Linked DNA regions of Homo sapiens. The protein of the gene in region 1 purifies or fractionates together with the protein of each later gene. This does not show direct contact. Each region holds a gene or a part of one and is shown on either strand. Other genes may lie near its edges.

Region 1 (8,687 bases):
TGCCAGGCTGGAGTGCAGTGGCGTTATCTCGGCTCACTGCAACCTCTGCCTCCCGGGTTCAAGCAATTATCCTGCCTCAGCCTCCCGAGTAGCTGGGATTACAGGTGCCTGCCACCACACCCAGCTTATCTTTGCAGTTTTAGTACAGATGGGGTTTCACCATGTTGGCCAGGATGGTCTCGATCTCTTGACCTCATGATCTGCCCACCTCGGCCTCCAAAGTGCTGGGATTACAGGCGTGAGCTACCGCGCCCGGCCTCTTTCTGTATTTCTTACAAAGATCTTTGGAATGTTCAATCTACCAAGTGATTCCATACCTCCCCAAACAGGTCCTTCACAGCCGAAATAAGCAGCTGTTTGAACTGTGCAGCATTCAGTCCAACTCCACAATCTTGAAATTCTCTAAAAAAAGTGAAAAAAAAAAAAGTCATATTAAATTTCATTCTATTCAGATTCATGTTAGAAAAGTAATCTAAAATAGAACTTAGGAAACTAAACTTACAGGCAGACTTTCATGTAGTGGTACTCGGAAGGGTTTTTGTAAACTACTCTTTCATATGTGGCAGCAGGGGCAGGCATCTTTTCCAGTGCTGATCACACCTACAGTAAGTCAAGAGGGCTAGAAATGACCAATGCACATGCTATTTTTCAGAGTTTTGATGAGAATTTGGCCTATTTGGGTTTTTTTTGTTTGTTTGTTTTAAGGCAGGGTCTCACCCTGTCACCTAGGCTGAAGTGCAGTGGTACAATCAGAGTTCACTGCAGCCTCCACCTCTGGCTCTCGAGGCTCAGGTGATCCTCCTGCCTCAGACTCCTGAGTAGCTGGGAGTATAGGCACGTGCCACCACATCCAGCAGATTTTTGTATTTTTTGTAGAGACAGGGTTTCACCATGTTGCCCAGGCTGGTTTCAAACTCCTGGGCTCAAGCAATTTGCCCAACTCAGCCTCCCAAAGTGCTGGGATTACAAGTGTGAGCCACCAGGCCCGGCCTTCCTGTTATTATTATTTTTTTTTTGGAGAAGGAGTCTTGCTCTGTCGCCCAGGCTGGAGTGCAGTGGCACAATCTTGGCTCACTGCAACCTCTGCCTCGCGGATTCAAGCAATTCTCCTGCCTCAGCCTCCCGAGTAGCTGGGATTATAGGAATGTGCTACCACGCCCGGCTACCTTTTTTGTATTTTTAGTAGAGACAGGGTTTCACCATATTGGTCAGGCTGGTCTCGAACTCCTGACCTCGTGATACGCCTGCCTCGGCCTCCCAGAGTGCCGGTATTACAGGTGTGAGCCACTGTGCCTGGCCTCCTGTTTGGTTTTTAAGACTTCTGAGCACAGTAACTCATCTAATTCTGATCAAACTAAGGTTACCCATACGAATACAAAATAAGTTTCTATATTCTATAAATGTCAAATCACTGTACTCTTACTTAAAACATAACAACATAATTTTGGCTAACAATTTTCCTTATGAGCACCCAGCTCTTTGCTAAACATTTCACATGCCTTAGCTTGTCTTCAAAATGCTCCTGAGGTAAGAGGTATTATTATTCCCATTTTCGAGAAGATGACACAGAGGTTTAGTAAACGTAGGTAACATCTGCCCAAGGGTGCCCAGAGATTCCAACCACTCTGAGCCCACTCAAGACCAGTTACGATGCCTCTTTATCCAAAGAAAAAGAAAAGACATAAAGGAGTAAAATCTAAGATTTGAAGGTCCTCTTCTTGTTTACTCTCAGTCAACACAGAACACAAAGAGAAGAATGAGGGATGGTCGTTCTGCCGTCTCCTCCCATCCTGTGTCTGCCTGCTCTCAGTCCAAAAGCCAGGTCTGTGCAAGACTATCTGTGAACAACTGAGCTTAAACAGCACAGGGGTTGAGAAGAGGGATTCCTGGAAGGGGCACTCAATGCAGCTTCTAAAAGGTCTGAACTTTCAAGAACGTAGAACATGCTCATCTCTCTGTAGACAGTTCCTTTCCTTGGCTCCATGCCAACCTTGCTCTCCCTCTGGATAGGTCCTATTCATCCTTCAACTTTCAGTTTAAATACCACCTCTTCATGAAGGTCTTCTCTGACACCCTTCTCTAAGTTAAGCCCCCATGTTATGCAATCTCTTAACACTGTCTATTTGTTTAATATATGGATCCCCCACTACAGGGAACAGGAAACTGAGGCCCAATCAAGGAAAGGGACTTATCCAAGGTCACAGAGCTATGGACCAGCATTTCAAAACCACTCTGGGTTAGACCCAGTTCCAACCACTCCCAGATGATGACCTCTGGAGAAAAGAAGTCAGGGTCAAGGAGCTACATCTACCAATCCATTCAACAAACATTAATACTTTGGGGCCTGGCGTGGTGCTCATGCCTGTAATCTCAACAGTTTGGGAGGCCAGGAGTTTGAGACCAGCCTGGGAAACATAGTGAGACCCTGTCACTAAAAAAAAAAACAAAAAAACTTAAATTAACCAGGCATGGTAGTGTGTGCCTGTAGTCCCAGCTACTCCAGGGGCTGAGGTGGGAGGATAGCTTGAGTCTGGGAGGTTAAGGATACAGTGCACTGTGATTGTACCACTGCACTCCAGCCTGGGTGACAGAGCATGACCCTGTCTCCAAAACAAACAAACAAAAAATACTGTAATACTATGACACAAAGTAGGTATTCAAATGAGAGAAAAGTGATAGTGGTATAGGCCTATATATTCAAAAGAATCCTTGGTTTCAGGACAGCGGAAATAGTTACCTGATGCTTCTTTCCCAGTCACTAGAGTCTCCCCTAACTAGAAGGGCAGGGAGAACAAGAAACCTCATCTGTTTCTTTCATTGCTTGGCACATAAATGTTTTTTAGTGTTACTGCCTTGATGGAGCTGGCTGCCTAAAATAGGGGAGTGAAATTAGACCCAGGGCTTAGATGCCAGTAAAACGAAGACTTACACAACATTCACGAGATGGACAGTGGTGATGGCTGCACAGCGTTGTGAATGTACTCAATGCTACTTACGATAAATTTTATGTCACGTATTTTTTGCAATTAAAAAAAAAAAAAAAGACTTACAAATGACAGCACTGCCCTCTGCAGGCTGTTCTGACATTAAAGGAGAGGATACCTGGGAAATTATTTTGTACAGACTGGTATTAAATATATTCACCAGGCTCTCCACAGATGTGGGCTCACGAAGTTACTGTCATCGTCATCTTTAAAGTCAGTCTTGTTGTTTGTTTTGAGATGGAGTCTCACTCTGTCGCCCAGGCTGGAGTGCTTTGGGTCGAAGCAATTCTCGCTCCTCAGTCTCCTGAGTAGCTGGGATTACAGGCGTACGTCATCACGCCCAGCTAACTTTTGTATTTTTAGTACAAATGGGGTTTCGCCATGTTGGCCCAGGCTGGTCTCGAACTCCTGGCGTCAAGTGATCCGCCGACCTCGGCCCCCTCAAAGTGCTGGGATTACAGGCATGAGCCACCGCGCCCGGCCTAGAGTCAGCCTTTTTTAGTGGCTGCGCAGGGATGCTCCTAATCTGACCTATTAGTAATAAATCTGATTCTCCCTACTCCCCCGCTTCTCCATCCCTACGGCGGCCAGTGAGTCTATTAACATCTACTCAAGCTACATCATTCCTCTGCTCAAAATCTTGCTATGGTTCCCGTTTTATCCAGAGTAAGGCCAAAGTCCTTAGAGCAGCCTGCAAGGCTCTGCCTCACCTGCAGGACTGCTCCCTCTACACCTCTGACTTCATGTCCTGCCATTCTCCCTCCGCTCAATCCCCGCCACCACACAGGCCTAGCCTAGCTCTTTCTCACGCGCCAGTCTCGCTCCCACCGCTGGGCCTCGGCTCTAGCTTTTCCCCATGCTGGGAAAGATCTTCCTCCAGGCAGCCACCGGACTCACACCCTTGCCCCCTTCCTGGCTTAGCTCAAATCTCAATCGGGTTGGCCCAGTGCCCTTCTCGGCTAACACCGCACCCCACCCCCATGCCCCGTCCCTGCTTTCTTCTTCGTAGCATTTGCCTTTTTCTATGACAATTATGTAACTCGTTTATCTTTATCTGTACTTCCCCTCCCCACCCCAACAAAAGTCCACTCCAAGAATCTTGCTATCTTGTTCACTGCTGTTTCCCAAGGCCCTAAAACACTGGGTCGTGCACAGTGGGCGTGCGACGTACAATTTTTGGACTAAATCAATCACTTTAAAAAGCTCAATATCCTTACTGCTGAGCACTTGGGTGGCTTTCAATATTTTTCAACAACCACTATTTAGCGCTCACCTCGCGCCGGGCGCATGGAGAGCGCTCAGGACACGGTCCCGAAGTCTCGCCCGGGCCTCTCGGCCACGTTCTGCGGCCGAGACCCTACGCGGCGCCGTACAGAGGCCCTCAGCGCCCGGGGTCGGAGAGGACAAGCTACCCAAGGCGCACCGCCCGCCCCGCGCATGCGCCCGGGTCGCGGCCAACTGAGACGGCTCCCAGACAACCGCCGCTCTTTGGAAGGCTTCCACCTACCCACTCTTCGTCGGACTAGCCTGACGCCTGACCAGACTCCTATTCGCCGCAAGGACCCGCCAAGGCTTGGGGCTCCCCGGCAGCAGCCACAGCTGGGCCCGAGAAACTCCTGGTGTCTTTACGTTTGGCTTCTCCTCGTCCCGCCCCACGAAGCGTGACGCCCAGGCGGATATGACGTCACCACGCGGCGTCGTCCTAAGGACCCAGGCGCGAATCCTGATCCGGAGCTGAGAGCGGCCGAGCTCAGCGCCCTCTGGTGTCCACTCCGGGAAAGCCGTGTGTGCAATTTGCTTGGGGTGCGGTTTAGGGCGGGTTTTTTCCGCCTTGGACGGTGCTTCATAGTTATCCATTTCTTCATGCATTCATTCATTCATTCAACAATTTTTTCGTTGTTTTTTTGAGACAGTTTCACTCTGTCGCCCAGGCTGGAGTGCACTGGCGCGATCTGGCTTACTGCTACCTCCGCCTCCAGGGCTCAAGCGATTCTCCCACCTCAGCCTCCTGAGTAGCTAGGACTACAGGTATGCTCCACCATGCCTGGCTAATTTTTGTATTTTTAGTAGAGACGGGGTTTCACCATGTTGGCCAGGCTGGTCTCGAACTCCTCGCCTCAAGTGATCTGCCCACCTTGGCCTCCCAAAGTGCTGGGATTACAGACGTGAGCAACTGCGCCCGAGTCATTCTACACATTTTTTTCATTATATTATAATTTATTTATTGAGATGGAGTCTCGCTCTGTCGCCCAGGCTGGAGTGCAGTGGCGCCATCTTGGCTCACTGCACCCTCCGCCTCCCTTCAAGTGATTCTTCTGCCTCAGCCTCCCAAGTAGCTGGGACTACAGGCATGCACCACCATGCCCAGCTAATTTTTGTATTTTTAGTCGAGACGAGGTTTCACCATGTTGGCCAGCATGGTCTCAATCTCTTGACCTCGTGATCTGTCCACCTCGGCCTCCCAAAGTGTTGGGATTACAGGCGTGAGCCACCGCGCCTGGCCTAATTTTTGTATTTTTAGTAGAGACAGGGTTTCACTATGTTAGCCAAGCAGGTCTCAAACTCCTGACTTCAGGCAATCCACCCACCTCGCCTCCCAAAGTGTTGGGATTACAGACGTGAGCCACCGCGCCCAGCCTACAAAATTATATCTAGCATCTCCTCTCCTCAAGATCTCCTATGTCAAGCACTCCCCAAAGATAGGACCCACTCTCAGTGTCCCTTGTGACTCCCAGCACATAGTAGGTGTTCTATCTAGGCCGTCCTGGAAAGACCCACAAAGTAAAGACTTACTTTGTGCTAGGCACTATGCAAAATATTTTACATATGTCATCTCATGGAACCCTCACACAATCCTGAGATGGCTATTACTATGATCATCACCATTTTAGAGGTAGAAACTGAGGCACAGGCCAGGCGCAGTGGCTCATGCCTGTAATTCCAGCACTTTGGGAGGCTGAGGCGGGCAGATCACTTGAGGCCAGGAATTCGAGACCAGCCTGGCCAGCATGGTGAGACCCCCATCTCTACTGAAAATACAAAAATTAGCTGGGCACGGTGGTGCACACCTGTAATCCCAGTTACTCGGGAGGCTGAAGCAGGAGAATTGCTTGAACCTGGGAGGTAGAGGTTGCAGTAAGCCGAGATCACACCACTGCACTCTAGCCTGGCAACAGGAAAAGAAACTGAGGCACAGAGAGGCTAAGTTATTTGCTCAAGATCACAGTTATAAGCAGTGGCATGGGCTGTCTGATTCTAGCCAGTGCTCTCCATACTGCACTGTATTACCACCAATTGAGGGGCTGCAGTGGGAAGGGAAACTTTAGTGTAACCCCCATGAGGATGGGGCCTTGTCTGTGTTTCTCACCACTGCATCCCAGTTCCTGGTACCCAATGGTGACCCAACATCTATTTACTGAAGGCATTTGTTCATAAATGGATGTGCTGGTTTTGCTTGGGTTGGGGGGCAAAGGGTTGCCTTGCACAGGACAGTTGAGTCAGCGGGGATCTCCTTCCTCAATTATTTTCTCAAAATCCCACTGTGTTGTTTCCAGAAGCTTCAGTCCTCAACCTTGGCCATGCTCTCCAGTTCTGTGGTTCCTACTTTCTTCTTCCTTCAGAGGAGACAGGGCTTGTTCCAGATGTGGGAAGAGGTGGAGAAAGCAAACACAGACCCCACAGACCCAAGTATTATCTTTCTCAAAAAAGCTTGATTTCAGAAGCTGCCAGAACTTGCTTCAAATGCATCCTCTGCCACTTACCTACCTCCCTCATCTGTCACATGGAGAGATTATTAGCATCTACCTCACAGAGTTGAGGGAAAAAGAGTTGATGGTATAAAGTGTCTGGCACCCCAGGAAACCCTCAGTAATGGGAGAGGGTTCCTGTAAGCCAGCTGCCTGGCAAATGTATCCTGCCAGGTGGCCCAGGAAAACCAGAGCAATTCCTGTATTTTGAACTTCAAGGAACAATAGATAATTTTCACCCTGCTGCAACAAACCCTGAAAATGAAGTGTCTTCCCAGTTGCCTGAATTCTCTCATGCTGTCTTATTAATTCAGAGCGGAGGATAAAAGAGATGCCTTTGAATGATAAAGACAAAAAACTTGTTTTTTGGCTGGGTGTTGTGGCTCAGGCCTGTAATCCAGCACTTTAGGAGGCCGAGGTGGGCAGAACACCTGAGGTCAGGAGTTCAAGACCAGCCTGGCCAACATGGCGAAACCCTGTCTCTACTAAAAATACAAAAATTAGCTGGGTGTGATGGTGCGCACCTGTAATCCCAGCTACTCGGGAGGCTGAGGCAGGAGAATTGCTTGAACCCAGGAGGCAGAGGTTGCAGTAAGCTGAGATCACGCCACTGCACTCTAGCCGAGATGACAGAGCGAGACTCTGCCAACAAACAAAACAAAACAAAAAACAAAAAAAAACTTTTGTTTTTCAACTAAATTTTATATTAAAAAATCGTTTTTGGACAGTGTCTCACTGTCACCCAGACTGTAGTACAATAATGTGATCATGGGTCACTGTAGCCTCAACCTCCCAGGCTCAACCGATCCTCCCACCCCAGCCTCCCAAGTAGCTGGGACTACAGGTGCATGCCACCATGGCCAGCTAATTTTTAATTTTTTTGTAGAAACAGGGTCTCACCATGTTGCTCAGGCTGGTCTTGAACTCCTAGGCTCAAGCGATCCTTCTGCGTTGGCCTCCCAAAATGCTGGGATTACAGGTGTGAGGCACTGCACCATGCCTAAATTTTATCTTCTGAATAGGTACTGTAGGCTTACAGCATACATTTCAAATGACATAAAGGGATAGATATTAAAAAGTGAGTCTCCCTTCCACCTCTTCCCCTGTCAGCCTCTCCCCTCTCCAGGAGCAACAACTAGTATGAGTTTCTTAAGTGTCCCCTGAAAAATATGATATGGGGGCTTTTACCTCTTGACGATGTATCTAAAATTGCTCCAAATCAAAACACACAAGGCTGCCTCAGTCTTTTTTTCTTTTTTTTTTTGGAGACAGGGTCTTACTCTGTGGTCCAGGCTGGAGTACAGTGGTGCAAACATAGGTCACTGCAGCCTCAAACTCCTGGGCTCAAGTGATCCTCCTGCCTCAGCCTCCAGAGGAGCTGGGACTACAGGCATGTGTCACCACACCTGGCTAATTTTTTTGATTTTTATTTTTAGAGAGGGGATCTTGCTATGTTGCCCAGGTTAGCTGCCTCAGTCTTTATGAAAGTTACCCTGTACTGCATTGGGTGGAGCCAGTTAGTTCTTAAGAGGACCATTTCAGGTACCCTCTGTGTTTCAGAGCAAAGTTGTTGGGGTCGGTCTCTATTTTATGTCCCTGAAAGGTACGGCAGCCAAGAATGAGTTAAGTCCACACTTCCCCTCTGCTGTGTGGCTCCCCTCCCTGCCTTACTTATTGGTGCCAAATGGATTTTTCTAAAGCTGAGGAGCTTTCTCAACTTGGGGAAGAAAAGGCAAGAGAGAAGGGTCCAAGTGAGATTCCAGTCCCCCTGTTCTCCATTGATTTAATGGAAAACACCCCCTATGTCAGCAGATTGTGGAGATAGGACAAAGGAAGTGAAAATGATCAGAAGTTAAAACCTATGGAACTGTAGCCATTGTTTCTGTTTCGAGAATAAGATCACATAGTTTAGGGAGATTTGCCAAGTACCAGCTAACTTGCTCACATTATTCCATCA
Region 2 (5,764 bases), on another chromosome or scaffold:
ATGTATGAGTAAACTAGAATTTTCTTTTCTTTCACTTAAAATCAGTTTAAGAATCAGCCTCAGTATAACTCAGAGATTTATAGTAGTATATTTGGATTATCAAAATATATACATAAACACTTCTCTAATGATTAGTGTTTCATTATAAGGACAGCTTACTTTTATTTTTCATGATTACCTAAACCAAACATGGTGAGCTCTCAATTGTTTTGAGATCCCATTGTTGAGCATTATTTTTCACAAATGTGCGGATTTCTTGAACTGACCGTTATGGCTCCACCTAAATTGCAGTTACCACTACATTATTTTTTCAGTTAATGCTCCTTTGCTTCAGATAGTACTATGTTATGTATGTAGGTATCATGTCACTTCTTCAGCTGTCCTCCCACTCCATGTCAGAGTGGATTTACAGGTATGCCCAACAAAGGTGAATGCATCTTTTGTTCTTTCAACATTTTATTGAGGGTCTATCATATGCCAAGCAACATTTAATATTGGGGATATAAGATGGAATAAAACAACCAAAATCAGATTACGTACGGTTTACTATATGGAGGCCAGTAGCAAATACACTTTATATCCCTGCATATTTTATGTTAACATTTATCAACTGTTCAAGTGCCTGCTTATTGTCTATCACTGTGCCGGGCACTGGACATTATGACAGCTTATGTCTGGCCTAAGACTATAATTAGCAATTACTTGGATTGAAAATTGTCATATTTAGGAGTTTACCAGTGTTGGTCAGGTAGGTGCATTTTGCTTTGTCATAAAATTGAATGGTTAAAGGGAAAGAAAGAAGAGATAGAATATTGAAGTGAGTATGGAATTCGGTTTCTTAGTTCTTGGAGAATTGTATTTTTCAAAAATCATTACTGCCACATATTTGGAAAATGTTCTTAAATGGGAAGACAGCAAATGCTGCCTCACTATCTTGCAGTGTTTTGCCCTCATGAAGCTTACATTCTAATGTATTTTAATCAGAAGTCAGCTAGAAAGGTGCTAGAGGTATTTGTTTTTCTGATTTTTTTTTTTTTTTTTTTTTTTTTTTTTGAGACGGAGTCTCCCTCTGTCGCCCAGGCTGGAGTGTAGTGGCGTGATCTCGGTTCACTGCAAGCCCCACCTCCTGGGTTCACGCCATTCTCCTGCCTCAGCCTCCTGAGTAGCTGGGACTACAGGTGCCCACCACCACGCCCGGCTGATTTATTTTAACCTGTATACAGCCTCCTTCCAAAAAGTGTAAAGCAACATAGACCTTTGATAGATGCAGATCTTCCATTGGCATTTTCATCTGCTCATGAACATCAAACTACTTCTCACTTAAACTAGTTTGTATTAATTTGCCGAGGCATGGGCTGAGTCCTGTGCACAGTCAATTAGATATGTAGAAGAAAGGAAATTAGCTAGAAAATGGACCATTTCTTGAGAAATGAATCTTGAAAAGAAAGACAACCTCTAGAGCTAATGATGGGAGTGGAGAGGTGTGAGAGTATAACAACTCATTTGGTTGTATAAGTTACTTTAGACCTATGTTTACAAAATTGCTAAGGATTTGAAGGGGCTACTTAAATTTCCAGTGATACTGTGCCATGTTGTTTTTGGGAAGAGGCTTGAAGTTCATCTGCAAAAAAATATTAAATGCTTACTGCTGTTACAAAGAACATTCCTCCAGATGTTAAAGAGTATTATCTCCCATCTCTTCCCAAATTCCCACCAAACATGGTTTTATATTTAAAAAGTAGAGTTCATTATCTTTGAAAACCTATTTTAAATTAAATACAAATGTTTAGCCATTCATTTTTATTGAACATTTTCTCATTTAAAATTTGTCGGCTGGGCACAGTGACTCAAGCCTGTAATCCCAGCATTTTGGGAGGCCGAGGCGGGTGGATCGCCTGAGGTCAGGAGTTCAAGACCAGGCTGGCCAACATGGCGAAACCCTGCCTACTAAAAATACAGAATTAGCCAGGCACAGTGGAAGGCGCCTGGTCTCAGCTACATGGGAGGCTGAGGCAGGAGGATCACTTGAACCCAGGAGGCAGAGGTTGCAGTGAGCTGAGATCACGCCACTGCACTCCAGCCTGGGGACAGAGCAAGACTCCGTCTCAAAAAAAAAAAAATGTCTTGTCTGATTCTCGCTACTAGATTGCAAGTTCCCCAAGGACAGCCTCTATTTTACTTACCCCTATAGTATCTGGTGTAGTCCCTGACATTTAAGAATTCAATGAACCTGTGGTTTATGGGGTTAAATTATAAGATAAATGACGGGACTGATATTTCTTATTTTTATGGTAGTTGATCACTTGTAAAACATGCAACAGAACAGTGAAACATCATGGTAAAAGTAGAAGCTTTGTGTCAACATTGAAGAGCAATCCTGCCACTCCTACAAGTAAACTCAGCCTGAAGACACCAGAGAGAAGGACTGCAAACCCAAATCATGACATGTCTGGCTCGAAAGGCAAGAGCCCAGCATCGGTTTTCAGGTATCTTAATCCATGAAGTTTTTGAATTGCCAGTGTTAAGTGTTTTCTTCTAATTTCCTGTGTTTAATATATACTCCCTAAATATGCCATGCATTTCAGGACTTGGCCATTTTTCCTCCATACCCTTTTCTAATGTCACATACTCCCATATCTTCAATGCTCATTTCAATGCATTTGACTTCTAGGTATGTTACTCTACTTCCAACATCTCCTGTGCCTATTTCCAGCTGCCTGCTAAATATAACCACTTCAGTCCCCTACATGTTCAAAACTTAGTTCATCATTGCCCCACAGCTAACCACTCAAACCTGTCCATCCTCCTGAGTTCCTTATTCTGTGAATGAACACACCTTTCTGGACATTTTGACCTAAAATGACAGGTACATTCAAAAATCCCTATTCCCTTGGTCCTTGTCACCGATTTCTATATATCCTACTTCCCTGTTTTCATCTTTTTGCTCCTTTTTCTCCATAGTGCTGCTATATTCTGGTTCAGGTCCTTATGCACCATTTGTCAGGACTACTGCAGTGATTTTCCTCATGGGTCTCCCTGCTTCTAGGATCAAACTCTTTTAGTGTGATCATCTTTCTGGAGCATAGCTCTGATTAGAAGCATCACTGTGTAGCATATGGATAAATGCTCTAGCATGGCTTTCCAGCCCTATCTGGCACCAGTCTGTCTGCCTGTCTTTCTTTGCCTTAAATCATCCTATGTGCCAACAAAACTGAACCATTCACGGCCGGGCATGGTGGCTCACACCTGTAATCCCAGCACTTTGGGAGGCTGAGGTGGGCGGCTCAGGAGTTCAAGACCAGCCTGTGCAACACGGTGAAATCCCATCTCTACTAAAATACAAAAGATTAGCCAGGCGTAGCGGCGTGCGCCTGTAGTCCCAGCTATTTGGGAGGCTGAGGCGGGAGAACTGCTTGAACCTGGGAGGCAGAGGTTGCAGTGAGCTGAGATGGCGCCACTGCACTCCAGCCTGGGCGACAGAGCGAGACTCCGTCTCCAAAAAAAAAAATACTGAACCATTCATAATACACTTTCTTGCCCTAAACATTTGTTCTTGCCCTTTTCTCTGTCAGAAATTCCTGAGGAAATCTAACTGAACAGGGATTTGTCAAATGATAATACACCGAGGATAGCCAGTGCATGTATATGGCCATAATACAAAAGAGTAGAAAATGATTGTCATTTGTTGGTATAACTAAGTGTGGTTTTGTTTCTTTTCAGAACACCTACATCTGGACAGTCAGTATCTACTTGCTCCTCAAAGAACACCAGCAAAACAAAGAAACACTTCTCTCAACTAAAAATGTTACTTAGTCAGAATGAATCCCAAAAGATTCCAAAGGTGGACTTCAGAAATTTCTTATCTTCTCTGAAGGGTGGACTTTTAAAATAAGAAATGCCTGATGTCAATTCTGAAACTAAAGTTGGTAAAACAACTTTTTAAACTCTTATTCATTTTTTGAATACATGGAAACTAGATCTGAATGCAAACTTTTCTTGGCATCCTTCAGTGTTTATGGGGAAAATACCTCATTAGTGTGAATACCTGAAACCTGCCTACCTCATAGGACAGCTGTGAGGATCAAAAAATATATGAAAGTTCCTTGTAGATACATATCTATAGATATATATGTGTATGTATATAAAGATAGATATATACATTGAGTAGTGGCATTACTGTTTTTTCTTCCTTTAGTCAGCAGTTTTTATTTATGTTATTGTCTTTCAAAAGGAAATTGAGATCTTTATGAGAGGGTCTATTCACTCAAGGGTTTCTTCCATGTGTCTATAGCATTGTTGATAATTCAGGAATAGGATCAAGTGGGTCCTTATTTTCTCACAATTATCTGCATAACTATCTTAGTAAAACCTGAACCTTATTCCTATTTTGATTGCAAAAGTAAATATCTGGAACATTCCTGATTATAGATCACTCAATAGGAAACTAAAATTTTCTTTCTTAGAAAAGGAAACATACTGTTGGTGATACTATAAATTAGTACAGCAACTTTGGAAAACAGTATGGAGGTTCCTCAAAAAACTAAAGGTAGAATTACCATATGATCCCATATCTGCATATATATCCAAAGGAATTGAAATCAGTATGTCAAAGAGATGTCTGCCCTACAGTGTTTCATTGTAGGATTATTCACAATAACCAAGATATGAAAACAACAGAAATGCTTGTCAAAGGATGGATTTTTGTAAATGTGTATATACACAATGGAATACTATTCAGCCTTTAAAAAGCAAGAAATTCTGTCAGTTATGATAACATGGATGAACCTAGCGGACATTATGCTAAGTGAAATAAGCCAGACACAGAGAGACAAATACTGTATTATTTACATGGGATCTAAAAAAGTAGAGCTCATAGAAGTAGAGGATATAATAGTGATTACTGGAGGCTGTGGTTGGGGGAGGGGAAATTTCAATTAAGAGGAATAAGTTCTATGATCTCTTGTACAGCATGATGACTCTAGTTAATGTATATTTCAAAATAGCTGAAAGAGGATTTTTGGCCTTTTTTTTTTTTTTTTTTTTTTTTTTAAGAGACAGAGTCTTGCTCTGTCATCTGGGCTGGAGTGCTATAGCATGATTATAGATCACTGTAGCCTTGAACTCCTGGGCTCAAGTGATCCTGTTGCCTCAGCCTCCAGAATAGCTGGAACTACAGACACACACCACTGCACCTGGCTAATATTTTATTTTAATTTTTTTCATTTCCCACTATAAGAAGCCATAATTTTTTTTATTTTTTGTAGAGGCAGGATCTTACTTTGTTGCCCAGGCTTGTCTTGAATTCCTGGCTTCAAGCAATCCTCCTAACTCAACCTCCCAAAGTGCTACGATTACAGGTGTGAGCCACAGTGCCCAGCCAAAAGAGGGTTTTTTAATGTTCTCGCCACAAAGAAATGATAAATGTTTGAGGTGATGGATCTATTAATTAGCCTGATTGGATTACACCAGTGTATACATGTAATGAAACATCACATTGTGTCCCATAAATATATACAATTATTATTTGTCTTTTTTTTTTTTTTTTTGAGACGGAGTCTCACTCTGTCACCTGGGCTGGAGTGCAGTGGTGCAATCTTGTCTCACTGCAGCCTCCACCTCCTGGGTTCAAGCAATTCTCCTGCCTCAGCCTCCTGAGTAGCTGGGATTACAGGTGCCCGCCACTACGCCCAGCTAATTTTTTGTATTTTTAGTAGAGATGGGGTTTCACCGTGTTGGCCAGGCTGGTCTCGAACTCCTGACCTAG
Region 3 (9,014 bases), on another chromosome or scaffold:
ATTATGCCAACCAAAACACCTACACAAACTTCCAAAATGCCAGCCACATCAGAATTTGCCCACTTCCACTGAGAGCCACTAAATTACCCCCCATTCACTTACTTCCTTTTCCAATGCAAGACCTCACACAAAATTAAGACTTGCCTATATGGTATAGTGTTTAAGGGCTTTCACTATGGAGTTTGAAAGATGTGGGTTCAAATTCCTTCTTTACACTTTTTAGTTACATAATCTTAGGAAAATTACTTTCTCACTTTCAGCCTCAGCCTCTTCCTCTACAAGTTGCTGTGAGAATTAAACATTATATACAGGCCAGGTGGGATGGCTTATGCCTGTAATCCCAGCACTATGGGAGGCCAAGGCGAGTGGATCACTTGAGGCCAGGAGTTCAAGACCAGCCTGGCAAACATGGTGAAATCCCATCTCTACTAAAAAATACAAAAATGAGGCCGGGAGCGGTGGTTCACGCCTGTAATCCCAGCACTTTGGAAGGCCGAGGCAGAAGGATCACAAGGTCAGGAGATCAAGACCATCCTGGCTAACACAGTGAAACCCCGTCTCTACTAAAAATACAAAAAATTAGCCGGGCGTGTTGGCGGGCGCCTGTAGTCCCAGCTACTCGGGAGGCTGAGGCAGGAGAATGGCGTGAACCCGGTAGGCGGAGCTTCCAGTGAGCCGAGATCGCGCCACTGCACTCCAGCCTGGGCGACGGAGCAAGACTCCGTCTCAAGAAAAAAAAAAAAAAATACAAAAATGAGCCACGTGTGATGGCATGCGCTTGTAATCCCAGCTGCTCGGGAGGCTGAGGCACGAGAATCCTTTGAACCCAGGAGGCGGAGATTGTGGTGAGCCGAGATCACGCCACTGCACTCCAGCCTGGGCGATAGAGTGAGACTCTGTCTCAAAATAAAAAAATGAACAAACATATACATACTGTACATGGTTTTGGCTTTGCAAAATGCATATACACAACTCACTTAGCATGGGGCTTTATGCTAACTAAATGCTCAGTTTATGGTAGCTATTATTCTTAAATAATAAATGAAATAGCAGGGATTGATGCCATTTCACTGTCTCACTCCACTAATTTCAACTAAATGAAAGACAGCTATATCTACATGCAAAAACATTTTTCAAATTAAACAGTATGAAGGAAGTAAATGGAGTTCTGCAGAACTGGCTGGCTAGTGAAGCACATGATTCAGATCGGTCTGCATTAAAAGCCATTCCAAATATTTTACAAAACAACTTAGTTAACCTACTGTTACCTGCTTGAATCAGAACTCACCAGCAAGGCTAGACAAGAACACCATAGAAACTCTAGCTCCCCTCAGTATTAGAATGGTCCAAGAAAAGGTTGGTGCTGGAGGATTAGGATAACCTTGGGAACATCCCTGAGCTTTGGGTCCAGACTAAAATATGAGGAAATCAAACTGGCAGTGGTCCTCTAACAGCAGAAGGGAATGAATATAGGATGCATCTTTATGAAGTCTGAGGATTTAATTTAAAAGTTTCCAGAGGCCTGGTGTGGTGGTTCACATCTATAATCCCAGCACTTTGGGAGGCCAAGGCGGGAGGATTGCTTGAGCTCAGGAGAAACCAACCTGAGCAACATAGTGAGAACTCATCCCTACAAAGAAATCAAAAAATAAGCTAGGCATAGTTATGAGCTTGTGGTCCCACCTACTCGGGAGGCTGAAGTGGGAAGATCGCTTGAGACAGGGAGGTCAAGGCTGCAGTGAGTGAGCCTTGATCACATTACTGCACTCCAGCCTGGGTGACAGAGCAAGACCCTGTCTCAAAAAAAAAAGTTTCCAGAAGGAATCTTAACTCTTACCTTCACCTTCAAGTCAGTTTTGTCAAACTTTAATAAGCACTAAATATGTGCTGCCTTTATAAAAATATTTTCGCCAAATCTTCAAATAAAATGGATACGTTATGTTTTCTGATACAGCTTAGTATCCTCTGGCCAGACACAACCTTTGGTGTTAGTTAGTTCCCAGTTTGAGAACCTGGGAACTAACTAGATGATGTCTATTTTCTTCCAGATCTAAAAAGTTGGTGATTCAGACTTGATATAAAATCTGTCTTAAGAATAAAGGTACCTTGTTTCACAAGAAATATTTTACACAAGTTGAATCATTTGTAATGCTCCAAAATAGCTTCTTATTTAAAAACTTAAATGGTGAATTATTTTGTAAATAAAAATATGTCTTAATTATCTAGTTTAATCAGATTTAATAAACTTTTGGGCACCTACTATGTGCCCAATAGTTTCAGGCTGTGTATAATTCCAAAGTAGAATAAGAATTTTGTCATCTTAGGCAGCATTGAGAACTTGATGTGGCAGGCACTATTCTACATGACTTATTCATTTAATTCTCACAACTCTGTGGTCACTAGTATTATTCTCATCTTATAAATGAAGAAATCGAAGCACAGAGATTTTATATACCAGTCCAAGGCTACTAAGCTTGTGATTGTGCTGAGATTCAAACCAGGCAGTCTGACTCTATCCACTATTCTTTTTTTTTTTTCCACCCCTTCCCTCTCCAATCCACTATTCTTGAAACACATAACAATTAGAAAATAGGATCTCATATAATAAAATACTAAATTATGCGGTACAGCACAATAGGAAACAGGACAAGGGAAAGAAAAAAAATGAGGCCGGGCATAATGGTTACACCTGTAATCCCTGCACTTTGGGAGGCTGAGGTGGGAGAATTGCTTGAGCCCAAGAGTTGGAGACCAGCCTGGCCAATATGAAGAAGCCCCGTCTCCACAGAAAATACAAAAATTAGCCGGGCGTGCTGGTGTGCACTTGTAATCCCAACTACTTGAGATGCTCAGGCTGGAGGATTGCTTCAGCCCAGGAGGTCAAGGTTTCAGTGAGCCAAGATCATGCCACTGTACTCCAGCCAGGGTGACAGAGTGAGATCCTGTCTTGAAAGAAAGAAAACAAAGAAAAAGAAAAGGAAAGGAAGGAAAGAAGAAAAAGAAAAAAATGTGAATTGGTAGGAAAAGTCAAAGAGAAAATAGAATTTCAGTTAGCTGGAATTTGCACAGATAAGGAAGAAAGAGTATTCAGGAATCCACAGTGTGAATACAGGAGGACTCTAGTGGGAAAAGGGAGTAGATGACAATGAAACTTGAATAGGCAAGGGGAGGCCAGACTGAAAGGTCTTTTATTCCAGGCCCCAAACCAATGAAAAAGATCAGAAGGTTCCTGAGCCGGAAGTAGGAAGGCCAAAACCTTAGCAGTATGTAGGACAAAATGAGAGGGAATAAAGCAGATTTTCTTGTATTATCTTTAGGAAGCAGGGAAGGCAGAGATTTTATTATTATTTTTTTTAACTGTTGCATTCCTCCTAGCATCTAGCAGAGTGCCTTACACAAAGTAGGGACTCATATATCTATGAGTGCCCGCATAAATGAAGAAACGAAGCGTACTTACAATGCAAATATTAACAGGATAAGAAATATTTAGCCAAGTACCACCCCTTCTGACACAGCAGAATACTTACAAGGGATCTGGGCCATTCCAGATCACCATCTTTCTTTCTGAAATGATATCCCAATCACTAGGGCTCTGTTCAGACAGTGACCTTGTAAAGCCCGAGGAGCACCCTAGAGAAGGGAACACAGGAGGAGCAGGAAAGGGAACACGGGAGGACCAACGCCCAGATCTCAGCGTGGTCGCCAGAATGACCCATATTAGTCATTTGGGGTTGCAGAAGAGGGGATGCAAGCCCATTCCCAGGACGGCCTCCACCCGGCGGGGCAATGAAGGGAAATGACTGACGTAGGGGGCTCCAGCGCAGGGGCCGAAGGAGATGCGACACCAGGGAGAGGGGCCCCGGGCACAGGCAGCAAGGAAAGAGGTCAGCGGAGTCTGAGAGAGAAACGATGAAGAGGGGAGACGGGCGCCGGGAGGGGGGCCGCCGCATACAGTTCCCCCGACACTCGCATCCTGGAAGGCACCAGCCCCTCACGACCAACCTGCCAGACGCTGTGAGGAATCCCCGGGTCAGAATGACAAGCCTCCGCGACAGTACCCACCGAGCCAAAGCTCCTGGAGAGCGCGCTGGAGAGCGCATGCGCCAGACCGGGCGCTTCCTCCACGTGGCCTGGAGCGTCGCCGAAACTACAGTTCCCAGAATGCCGCACGAGCCCGCCCCCAGCGGGAGCTGTGGGGCAGAGGCGCTGCTGTGGTTGGTCAGTCCAGTAAGAAGCCAGCAGGGCTGGTGCTGGGGCTTCTTCTCCTGAAGGGGCTGCAAGAGGGAAGGCTTAGCCATGTCGTCCTTGATCAGAAGGGTGATCAGCACCGCGAAAGCCCCAGGGGCCATTGGACCCTACAGGTAACGTGGCTGGTGGAAGCTGTGTCGGACCCAGGGCGTGCGGGTTCGGGGATTCGGGGTTGGGGCCACTCCGGGCCGGAGCCCCAGCTAACACGCAAGGAAATTGAGCCTGGAAAGTAAGCAACGCGCCCGAAGACCCACAGAGAGTTGGGAGCCACGATGGGACCAGGAACCTGCACTCCATGGGACTTTGCTCGTTCTGGGGCTGCCTCGCTGCGGAGCACAGCCTGCCAGAAAGCTCTCCCCAGTTAGAAGCCTTCAGACCCTGTGTTTTGTTTTGGGGGAGGGGGTCGTTTTTGTTTTCTTGGTAACAGCTTTATTGAGATATAATTCACGTACCGTAAGATTCACCCCCTTTAACATGTACAATTCAGTGGTTTTGACCATACTCACAGAGTTGTGCAGCCATCACCACTTTCTTCAGAACATTTTCATCACCCCAAAAATAAATCCCATCCCCATTAGCATTCACTCCCCATTCTCCTCTCCCCCGGCCCCTGACAATCTACTTGCATCTTCATGGATTTGCTTGTTGTGGACATTTCCTATAAATTGAATCATAAAACATGCAGTCCTTTATGACCAACTTCTTTCATTAGCTTCATACTTGGTCTGCCTCTCTCCCAACTGAAAAGAGCCCCATCAACAGCTCCCTCCTTTAAACCTACTGCTGTGAGAAAAGGCACTGAGATGTGGCAGAACAGGAATTATTATAGAAAACTTGGAAATAAATAAAATGCAGTAGAAGTGAGAGGGCAAGTGGGGTAGGGAGTAAAGGAGAAAAAAGACAAATTGATTTTAACTTGGGGTGGAAGAGGAAAAAGAAGATTTAGGAAGGTTCCTTGTGAGAGGTAGTCCTTTGGTTTTGAAGGTTGGTTTTGTCATTTATAGTAGTGTTGTAAAGTTTGATTTTTAAATTAATTTATTAAGGATTTCAACAGGAAGTCATTGAGTGAAGGGCATGGAGGTAGAAGTCAGGTAGAGGGAATGGCTTGAGTGAGGGCATGGAGGTAGAAGAATGCATGGTATAAAGATTTTGGGGAGAAAGTTTTCATAATTCAAGTGCTACTTCTGTCTTTTTTGTTTGTTTGTTTGCCAAATCTGTATATCACTTATAATTTACTTAACCTATTTCTTTGAGATGGCTCACTTCATTTTATTTAACAAGTTAATTGAAAAAGGAAACTTTACAACAGTACACTAAATAGAAAACAATTCAATAGAAAGTAATAGTAAAAAATAAACTCAATTAAAAAAAGGTATTATTAAATTTTAGCTAGATATTGCAGTTGGCTCAAAACCTGAGGCCTGCTCTCTCTTTGTTAAGAGTGATGTTTCTTTAGCCGGGTACTGTGGTTCACGCCTGTAATCCCAGCACTGTGGGAGGCCGAGGTAAGAGGATTGCTTGAGGTCAGGAGTTCAAGACCAGCCTGGGCAACATAGTGAGACCCCCATCTCTATTTAAAAAAAAAAAAAAGTTTAATTAAAAACTTTCAAGTGATGTTTTAATTTGTTTTCTAAAGATGATTTTTTTTCTCCTTAATGTAATCAAACGGGGTAGAGTCATCATTGCTAACATTTACTGATGCTTACTCAGCAGCATTGGGCACTATCCCTTTTTTTTTTTTTTTTTTTTTTTTTTTGGAGGCAGAGTCTCACTCTGTTGCCCAGGCTAGAGTGCAGTGGTGCAATCTCAGCTCACTGCAACCTCCACCCCACAGATTCAAGTGATTCTCATGTCTCAGCCTCCCAAGTAGCTGGGATTACAGGCAGGTGCCACCACACCCGGCTAATTTTTGTATTTTTAGTAGAGACAGGGTTTCACTGTGTTGGTCAGGCTGGTATTGAACTCCTGACCTAAAGCGATCCACCTACCTCGGCTTCCCAAAGTACTCGGATTACAGGTGTCAGCCACCATGCCTGGCCAGCACCAGGCACTGTTCTAAGTTATTTATGTGCATGGTTATATTATAGTCCCTATTTTTCAGATGAAGAAACTGATGTGTGCAAAATTAAATAATTTGCCAAAAGTTACACCACTAAAAAGTGATGTAACAAAATTTGAATTTAGGAAATGGGTACTAGAGCCTAGTCTTAATCATTTACTTTGTTGTCCCTGGTGTAGATTGAAAAAAAAAATTGGAAAAGGAATCATTTTCTTACTATGTAAGACTGTGTATAAGTCTTACTGTGTATGACTGACTCCTTTGAGAAATACTGATTAAGAGTTGGACTTTGGATTTGAATTTTTGTTTTGCCTCTTTTTAATTATATGATCTTGCAGAGTGACTTAACCTCTCTTAGTTTGCTTCTTTGTCTTCTCAATGGGCATAAATAATACCATTTGATAAGATTATTGTGGGAATTAAATAAAAGTGACCAACAAAAATTAGATTTTGGCCAGGCACAGTGGTTCACACCTGTAATCCCAGCACTTTGGGAGGCCGAGGCAGGTGGATCACAAGCTCAGGAGTTCAAGACCAGCCTGGCCAAGATGGTGAAACCCCGTCTCTACTAAAAATACCAAAAAAAAAAAAAAATTAGCTGGGTATAGTGGCGTATGCCTGTAATCTCAGCTACTCGGGAGGCTGAGGCAGTGAATTGCTTGAACCTGGAAGGCAGAGGTCGCGGTGAGCCAAGATCGCACCACTGCACTCCAGCCTGGGCTACAGAGCGAGACTCTGTCTCAAAAAAAAAAAAAAAAGATTTTAGCAGGGTACAGGTTGTGGTGGTTTCCAATACTAAATGGAAGAATATAAACTTTATTTTGTATATAATAAGGAACAATTAAATGTGGTTTTTTTCTTGTGGTTGTTGTGGTTGTGTGTTTGTATGTGTGTATATTGAGACAGTGTTTCGCTGTGTCACCCAGGCTGGAGCCGGGATCACAGCTTATTGTCGCCTCAACCTCCCGGGCTCAAGCCATCCTCCCACCTCAGCTTCCCAAGTAGCTGGGGCTACAGGCTCAGGCCACCATGCCCAGATAATTTTTGTATTTTTTATAGAGCTGGGGTTTTACCATGTTGCCCAGGCTAAATGTTTTTAAGCAGGGTGGAACATGATCAGATCTTTTAAAAAGAATTCTGATAGTAATTCTGATAGAAATTTGGAGGTAAAGAAAGTGAGAATAGTTAGGGGATATTATAAGTAAAAATTTGTGATTTTTTTTCTCCTTCTGCCCTAATGTCTTTCTCTCAATCACACAGTGGTAGCATTTAGAAAAACATCTTTACCTCCAAACAAGAGGGACACAACCAAATCAAAGTGATTATTAGAGACACTTTGTCCTGGAGCCTGCTAAAGAGCATACCCCTTCCTTGACCTATTTAGAGATACTCTGTGGACTTTGTTCAGGAAAGAAAGCATAACAGTAATGTTCCTGGTTGACTTGAAGGTAGGTGGGAGTCAACTGTCTTTATAAAGCTGAAAGCTAAAAAGAGGGGAATCATCATATGAATGTGCCAGTATGACAAGAAAAAAAGCCACCAGCCAGCTTCATGGTGTGGAGACTTCCAGGACATTGTGCCTCTTGTGCACTAGGTGACTAGAAATGGTGCTTATTTTCAATAGTTAATGTTTAAGAAAAAAAACAGACTGCAACTAACTACTTATGTTAATTGGACATGTTTTAGGAACCTTTTGGGAACAAGAGTTTTTGTGCGTGGAGTGTGTAGTGAGTACACTTTTTGAAAATCCTGGGTCCTCTCCAGGAAGAATTCAAATGTGTTGAACTTTCAGTCCCTGGCATTGGGATGGATGGGGTGTTGTCACTAATTAGCCAATCAGCTCAGCACATTTCAGGAATACTTCCAGACAGAACCTTGAAAGATTTCAACATTGCATTGCTTTGCATTGCGCATTTTGCACACCGTCCTCATAATTATAAATTTTTGAAGCAGTAGCCCGTGTGGTATAGACTATGATGTGAGAATTATTAGAATGCTTTTGAAAGTGTGATTACCCTTTAACCTGGTAGTAGAACAGTGCACTTTTAAATTTTCTGAAGTCCAACCACTTGTCTTTGGATAGTAGGATTCTTATGCTCAGAAAGTGTCAACTAGCCAATTATTCTTATGAACAAACCTCTTTAGATCTGTAAGAGATAACTCACATAGCTCAGATGGTCTCAGCTCCAGTGCTTGCTTTTTATATTTTGAAAATAAAAGAGTTTCTTTTTACTATCATGAAGTTTCTGATAAATAATAATGCATATGGTCTTAAAGTGTGTTTCAGATATGGGGAAAGCTGAAGGCACTTTGCACAGGACCTAGGGCAGACGGCCTAATTCTACACAGGACAGTTAATAAAAAACAGTGTTACTGATGGTATTATTTAACCCGAGAAAAGATTACAAATTAACAAACTCAGTAGTTATCTATTTGTGGGCCAGTATGAAAGCCAGATAGTTGAGAAGACTTTCTAGACTTTCTGAATCATGTTATCAAGTTTAAACATACCTCCTTAGCTCTCTCCAAAGCATTTGCTGTAAGTCAACAGGTCCTGCTAAAAAGAGATTCACTGACAACCAAAATTGTTTATGCTACTAAGTGGTTAAAGAGCAAAACATCAGCAAGTAGTTATAGTGTGCCTACTGTATGCAAGGAATCACCTACACCCTACACAGCTACAGAGACATGGTAAGACATTACCCTG

The links. Proteins that work in one complex are often made in the same cells at the same time.
Region 2: the proteins of RPP14 (region 1) and RMP24 purify together in Homo sapiens (affinity purification with mass spectrometry; 2 studies listed by BioGRID and IntAct, with this or other methods). This does not show direct contact.
Region 3: the proteins of RPP14 (region 1) and POP1 purify together in Homo sapiens (co-immunoprecipitation; 2 studies listed by BioGRID and IntAct, with this or other methods). This does not show direct contact.

Annotation. Positions count from the first base shown.
Region 1 is NC_000003.12:58,302,222-58,310,908, reverse strand, and holds the start of RPP14 (ribonuclease P protein subunit p14), read right to left. Parts: upstream 4,665-8,687; 5' UTR 4,492-4,664; intron 4,390-4,491; exon of another isoform or gene 4,258-4,389; intron 601-4,257; 5' UTR 580-600; coding exon 503-579; intron 403-502; coding exon 318-402; intron 1-317. UniProt on the Homo sapiens protein: Component of ribonuclease P, a ribonucleoprotein complex that generates mature tRNA molecules by cleaving their 5'-ends.
Region 2 is NC_000018.10:35,975,115-35,980,878, forward strand, and holds the end of RMP24 (UPF0711 protein C18orf21), read left to right. Parts: intron 1-2,295; coding exon 2,296-2,486; intron 2,487-3,720; coding exon 3,721-3,892; 3' UTR 3,893-4,164; downstream 4,165-5,764.
Region 3 is NC_000008.11:98,112,379-98,121,392, reverse strand, and holds the start of POP1 (ribonucleases P/MRP protein subunit POP1), read right to left. Parts: upstream 4,101-9,014; 5' UTR 4,003-4,100; intron 3,554-4,002; exon of another isoform or gene 3,528-3,553; intron 1-3,527. Other genes in the region: RIDA (2-iminobutanoate/2-iminopropanoate deaminase), read left to right, coding at 4,297-4,361. UniProt on the Homo sapiens protein: Component of ribonuclease P, a ribonucleoprotein complex that generates mature tRNA molecules by cleaving their 5'-ends. Also a component of the MRP ribonuclease complex, which cleaves pre-rRNA sequences.